Linked DNA regions of Homo sapiens: region 1 is linked to region 2. Evidence: fine-mapped expression QTL. A gene starts in region 2. The other region holds a variant in brackets. All regions are shown on one strand. Distances are from middle to middle. Region 1 overlaps IKBKB-DT (IKBKB divergent transcript). Region 2 holds the start of PLAT (plasminogen activator, tissue type).

What was found.
Region 1: its variant is fine-mapped to the expression of PLAT in fibroblasts (GTEx, PIP above 0.99).

Annotation. Positions count from the first base shown.
Region 1 is chr8:42,255,257-42,258,170 of GRCh38, forward strand. It overlaps IKBKB-DT (IKBKB divergent transcript), which reads right to left. Exons shown (of 4, transcript NR_185843.2): 4 at 64-258. Among named protein-coding and RNA genes, the nearest start is that of IKBKB-DT, 15 kb to the right of the region's middle. The variant C/T (reference allele first, on the strand shown) is at 1,487.
Region 2 is chr8:42,206,353-42,209,266 of GRCh38, forward strand. PLAT (plasminogen activator, tissue type) reads right to left here and starts at 1,213. Exons shown (of 14, transcript NM_000930.5): 1 at 1,142-1,213. RefSeq lists enhancers at 1,714-2,232, 2,233-2,751.

The DNA.
Region 1 (2,914 bases), 49 kb after region 2:
CCCCAAGTTCGCATTTTCGACATTAAAGTTTACTTTTTAATTAAAAAAAAATCATATAGGCTCTTTTTAAGTCTGTTTTGCTGGAACTTTTAATAAGGAATCTCAGGTTAGACTTTCCAAGTCTCTCAAGAATACAAAGAGAACTTGTCTGGCTTGTTTCAACTTTGCCTGCAATATCTGTAGACTTTGATGAATTATTCTTTTCTTGATGTCCCCAATATACCTGAGGTCTGCCAGGAAGTGACCTTTCTTACTCATCTGTAAGGCAACCACATAAAGAAACCACATAAGCAAAGTATGAGGTTGGCTTTTTGGCTCCATAAAGTCAACCTTAGTTCCTTAAAACTGTCTGATCATATCGGATTATATGTTCATTTTCATATTTGATATTCCAGTCAACGTCTTAGCAATATAATCAAGGTTTTCAATTGTGTCCCTGTTATAAGGAGACTAGATTCTTACTGAATTTATGAAAATAACTATATAGTGCCAAGCATGGTGGCTCACACCTGTAATCCCAGCACTTTGGGAGGCCGAGGCGGGTGGATCACGAGGTCAGGAGTTCAAGACCAGCCTGGCCAACAGAGTGAAACCCCGTCTCTACTAAAAATACAAAAAAATTAGTCAGGAGTGGTGGCGGGCACCTGTAATCCCAGGTATTTGGGAGGCTGAGGCAGGAGAATCGCTTGAACCCGGGAGGTGGAGGTTGCAGTGAGCCGAGATTGCACCATTGCACTCCAGCCTGGGCGACAAGAGTGAAACTCCATCTCAAAAAAAAAAAAGAAAAAGAAAAAGAAAATAACTATATAGTCATGAGTAGTCATGAAAATAAGAATAGCCAGTAAGAGTTTCTGAATTCTACAGGGATCAGGTAGAGAAAAAAGGATAAATGTTTCAATTCTGTTTACGAAGGTATAATTTACCTGATTGCTGTAAATTTTAGTTAGCTTAAGAAAAAAAGAGAAAAGCCATTAAAGACCCAGAAATGTCCTAAAACAAGAAGTCATAAGAATTATAATCATCAGTCGGGCGTGGTGGCTCATGCCTGTAATCCCAGCAGTTTGGGAGGCTGAGGCAGGTGGATAGCCTGAGGTGAGAAGTTTGAGACCAGCCTGGCCAACATAGTGAAACCCCGTTTCTACCAAAAATACAAAAAAAAAAAAAAAATAGCTGTGGGTGGTGGCATGCGCCTGTAATCCAAGCTACTCAAGTGGCTGAGGCAGGAGAATCACTTGAACCCGAGAGGCAGAGGTGGCAGTGAGCCAAGATTGTGCCATTGCACTCCAACCTGGGCAACAAGAGCAAAACTCCATCTCAAAAAAAATAATAATAATTAAAAATAATTTAAATCATCTTCATTGGGTCATCTAGTCTGATGTAATTAATTCTTGTTCTGCTTGATCTTTGGTTAGCAATTTCATGAATGAGTCAGTTTTTCCATTAGTGTTCTGGAAGTTGAACGGTATGATCTTAAAGTCATCAGGAA[C/T]GTGTACTTGTCCGTTTTCTCCATGAATCTCCTTAAATACAAATGCACTTTCTTGAGGTTCCTGGGCCTACCAGGAAATGACTTTTCTTACTCATCAGCACAGCAGCCATGCAAAGAAACCACATAAGCATGGTGGTTCATATTATAGTTGTTTGCAAAAGCTTTTAGGAATGCATCAAAATAAAACAATTAACTGTCTGTGGATGACAAAAGACTTCAAATGGTCATGGTTAAAGGATGAGAATTAATTGTAATACAATTGAGAAAAAAATTCAGTTACTTCTGTCACATACATTTTAAGATAATAACTAGAATTATAACTGACAACATTATAACTTCATGCAATTTCTGGAACACATAAATACATACAAATATGACATAAAGAAGCTTTAGTATCACTTCTTTTTTAACAATGCTTCCCATGTAATTTAACGTACCAAATTAATTTAACAAGTTTGTTTTTATAAGAAGAAAGACAAGGCCGGGTGCAGTGGCTTATGCCTATAATCCCAGCACTTTGGGAGGCCGAGGCAGGCGGATCACGAGGTCAACCAATTGAGACCATCTTGGCCAACATGGTGAAACCCCATCTCTACTAAAAATACAAAAATTAGCTGGGTGTGGTGGCACGCGCCTGTAGTCCCAGCTACTTGGGAGGCTGAGGCAGGAGAATCTCTTGAACCCGGAGGTGGAGGTTACAGTGAGCCAAGATCGCGCCACTGCACTCCAGCCTGGCAACAGAGCGAGACTCCATCTCAAAAAAAAAAAATTAATAATAAATAAAAAAGAAGAAAGACAAGTCCTTTGTGACTTTTTAGGGGCCTTCAGGAAAATTCCAAAGTTAGCTCAAGGTCAAAAACACTTCATGTAGAGTTTGATTTTTCAAAGTTGTCAAAAATGCCAAAAGACGGCTGGGCTCAGTGGCTCATGCCTATAATCCCAGCACTTTGGGAGGCCAAGGCAGGAGGATCACTTGAGCCCACGAGTTCGACATCAGCCTGGGCAGCATAGGAGGAGACCTTATCTCTAAAAAAAAATTTTCAAAGGACAATTTTTTTTTTAAAAGTCAAAAGACTAAATTTTTTGATTAAACAGGATCACAGATCACTGTAAAACATTACTCAGTTATCCATTTAACCAAAGCGCTGGAAGATTTCAGAGGTAATTACAGAAAGGTATACAGTTTTCTTTTTTTTTTTTTTAGCTTAGCTCTTTTAACAGAGAAGACTGAGTCTTCTTAAGTAATCAAACACCTGAAAAAGACAACATGAAACACAGGAAATTATTCTGATAAGACGCAGATTTTTTTCCACCTCAGCAAATTCTAGATTTCCTACACAGATTACATAGACGGTAAAGAAAAACGTTCCACAGTATTTTATCAAGAGAAGTCCAATACTCCAATAAAACTTTGTAATTTTAAGAAAG
Region 2 (2,914 bases):
GCACAGGAAGCACGCACCCAGCAGCTCATGCTGACCGTCATGGATTGAGTCTAGATCCCAGAATGAGCGTTCTTGCCACAGCAAGTACTGCTAGGAAGTCACCTTTGAGGGGACTCCACCTGACAATGGTATTTGCAAGACCCCTTCCCGGGACTGCAATGCACACGCATACACACACACACGACATTTTTTCTGTCATCAAGCAGCTACAGGAGACCACCATATTATTCCCAATTGGCCACCAAACACATCCTTGTTACCACACTTCTTTGAGCTTGAGTTGTCATTAGTTACCTGGGACCTCGGCGTGTTTTCGTCTTCCCTCCCTCCCTTCCTCTCTCCCTCCCTGTGAGGTTAAGAAAATAAAGATAATAACAGTGAAAATCTGGAGAACCCCACATGCTTCCTGCAGAGTGCTTTAGGAATAAAAGACATTAATGTCAGTTTTTTCCCCTGTAATTAAAATGTCCTTTAAGGAGGACTGCACACTTGACTGATGCACCCTGGGCAAAAAGCCAGAGGGCCAAACTGACCTGTGGAGACTTGTAGGGGTGGCACCTAGGGAGATCAGAGGCATTTCTCTATCCCACGGGGTAATGTGGGGTGTGAAAGCCACCTGCTTCTCTCTCCCAGCACCTAGCAAATAGTGCTCTGGAAGTAAGTCCCCCTCTGCCCCATCCACAGCCTCAGTTCCTTTCTGGGGGTTCATCGGGGGAGGGAGGAAACTAGGGGACCCAGCGGGCCCTCCCAGCTGTCACAGGCACGTGTCCCAAGGCAGCCGATTTTGCTTTTATTGCTTGCTCGTCTTGAGGTACTCCCATAGGCTATTTGGGGCTTTTCTGTATCGTTCTTTTCACTTTCCCCTTTACTCTGTCAGCAGAGGCTTCTCCAATGAATGCAACCTCCCTAGTCTCCCTTTCCCCGACTGCCTCTCCCCTCCAAAACACTCCAGCCTATCCCAATCACATGCAAATGCAAACAGACATCTCCCCTCTGGAGTGGATTCTAGCGGATCCTCTAGTTGCCTGAATTACAAAGTTGGTCCCTTGGTTAAAGCATTCCTTCACTGGCTCAGCTTGCTGGAAAGACTTTTAAGAGAAAGAAGAGGAGACAGACCCCAAGGTACAGAAACCCGACCTACCACGGCTTGCTCCTTCCCTTTCCTCGCAGAGGTTTTCTCTCCAGCCCTGGACTCCTGTAGGATCTCAGCTCTGAGCTCCCCACAGCTCCGGCCTCCTTTAAGTTTCCAGGCAGGGGGTGGGGTCGGTGGCCCCGGCTGGGCGGGTTTCTGTGTGGCGGGAGGATGCTCAGTGGACAGGGCCATGAGGGAGCTGAGGCAGGCCTGTTTTTATAAAGCAGGGGGAGGAAGTTCACGGTGGAAGCAGCACAGCCCATCCTGGCTTCGGGCCAGGCTGATTATTCACAGCCGTGATGTCATTGAATCGCAGGAATTTGGAAGTGGGATGGGACCTTAAGAATCATCTTCCTTTAGAGTCCTAGTGTCCCAGGCTTAAAAGGGACTTTCAGGACCCTGTGATGACAAGAAGTGTTTATAATTCTAAAGGCAGCAGGTTGGGGCTGGGAGTGGGGTGTCTTCTGGAATCTGTGGCTGTAGCTCTGGCCTCTCAGGACATGAGAGGTTAAAAGGACTGGAGGATGCACAAGGATTGGAACACTTTGTGTGGTGGCGGGAGCTCAGGGGGGTAGCCACTGAGAAGGCAGGACCAGCCTTGGGCTCACCTGCGGTAGGAGGTGCCCCCATGGGGGTTTGCTCCGGTAGGCATCTTTGGCCCTGTTCTGTAATTTTAGGGAGAATCTTTCTCTTCTTTGTAAAGTGCAGGGCTGCAGTAGGTGGCCTCCGGGGACTTTCCGGCTCCAGCATCCCCTTGAGTGGGCCCAGGGAATATACACAGGGCCTTGGGGCCAACATGCCTGAAATTCGATCAAAGCCATCAGCCCTTAAGCCCACCGAAGCCTTTCAGTATTTGCTTGTAAAATGCCCCTGGAAATAGACAAGCCATTTCCCTTGCTGACACCTTTTCAGATGACTGAGAAATAAAAGCCCTGTCGTGTAGGGGAAAGTCTTAGGTTTAAATCCGGCTGTGCCAGTAACTGGGATATGACCTCAATCAAGATTTTCAACTATGCTGAGCTCTGGCTTTTGCATCTGCAGGTCACGTGAGGATCAGAGAGAAGCCACGCATGTCAGGGCCCTGGCACATCACAGGGCTCAGCAGGAGCATCTATCATCATTGGTTCATGTCTGGCTGAGACCAGACCTTGTAAAAATGAGAGAGAGGTGAAAGAAAGAACGCAGGGAGGGAAGAGAAGTTTGGCAGAGGAAATTGTGGGATGACCGACTATTCAGGAGAGGCCAGATTTCATACATTCTGATCCTAAATATACTCATATTTGTCAAACCATGAGTGCTGAGTTTGAAGTTGAAAGGCACCTAACTGCTTTTCACATTGCTTTCAAACTGTTTTTCACATTTTTATGAAGCTGCAGCCCTGCTGATGGTCATTGTAGAAAAGGGGCACTGGGGTGGGTTGCCTGCTGAGCACGGGAGGTAGACCTCCCATGAGCAGCAGCAGCTGTGGGCCTGTCTGGTGGGCATGGGGCTGCTTTCCTGCAATGTGGTCTAAGATGGTGAGGATGGAGGCTTTTTTGGGGGGTGGGGCATTGCCGTTCAGCAGGGAGTGCTGGTCATGAGGACTCTCATTTGAACTCTTGAGAGGATGGTTTTCCACTGAATGGTTGCACTTAAATCCTGGATCCTGAACCTCTATGGAAAACAATATGGAGATTTCCCAAACTAAAAATAGAACATCCATTTGACCCGGCAATCCCACTACTGAGTATCTATTCAAAGAAAAAGAAATCATTACATCAAAAAGACACCTGCACTCACACG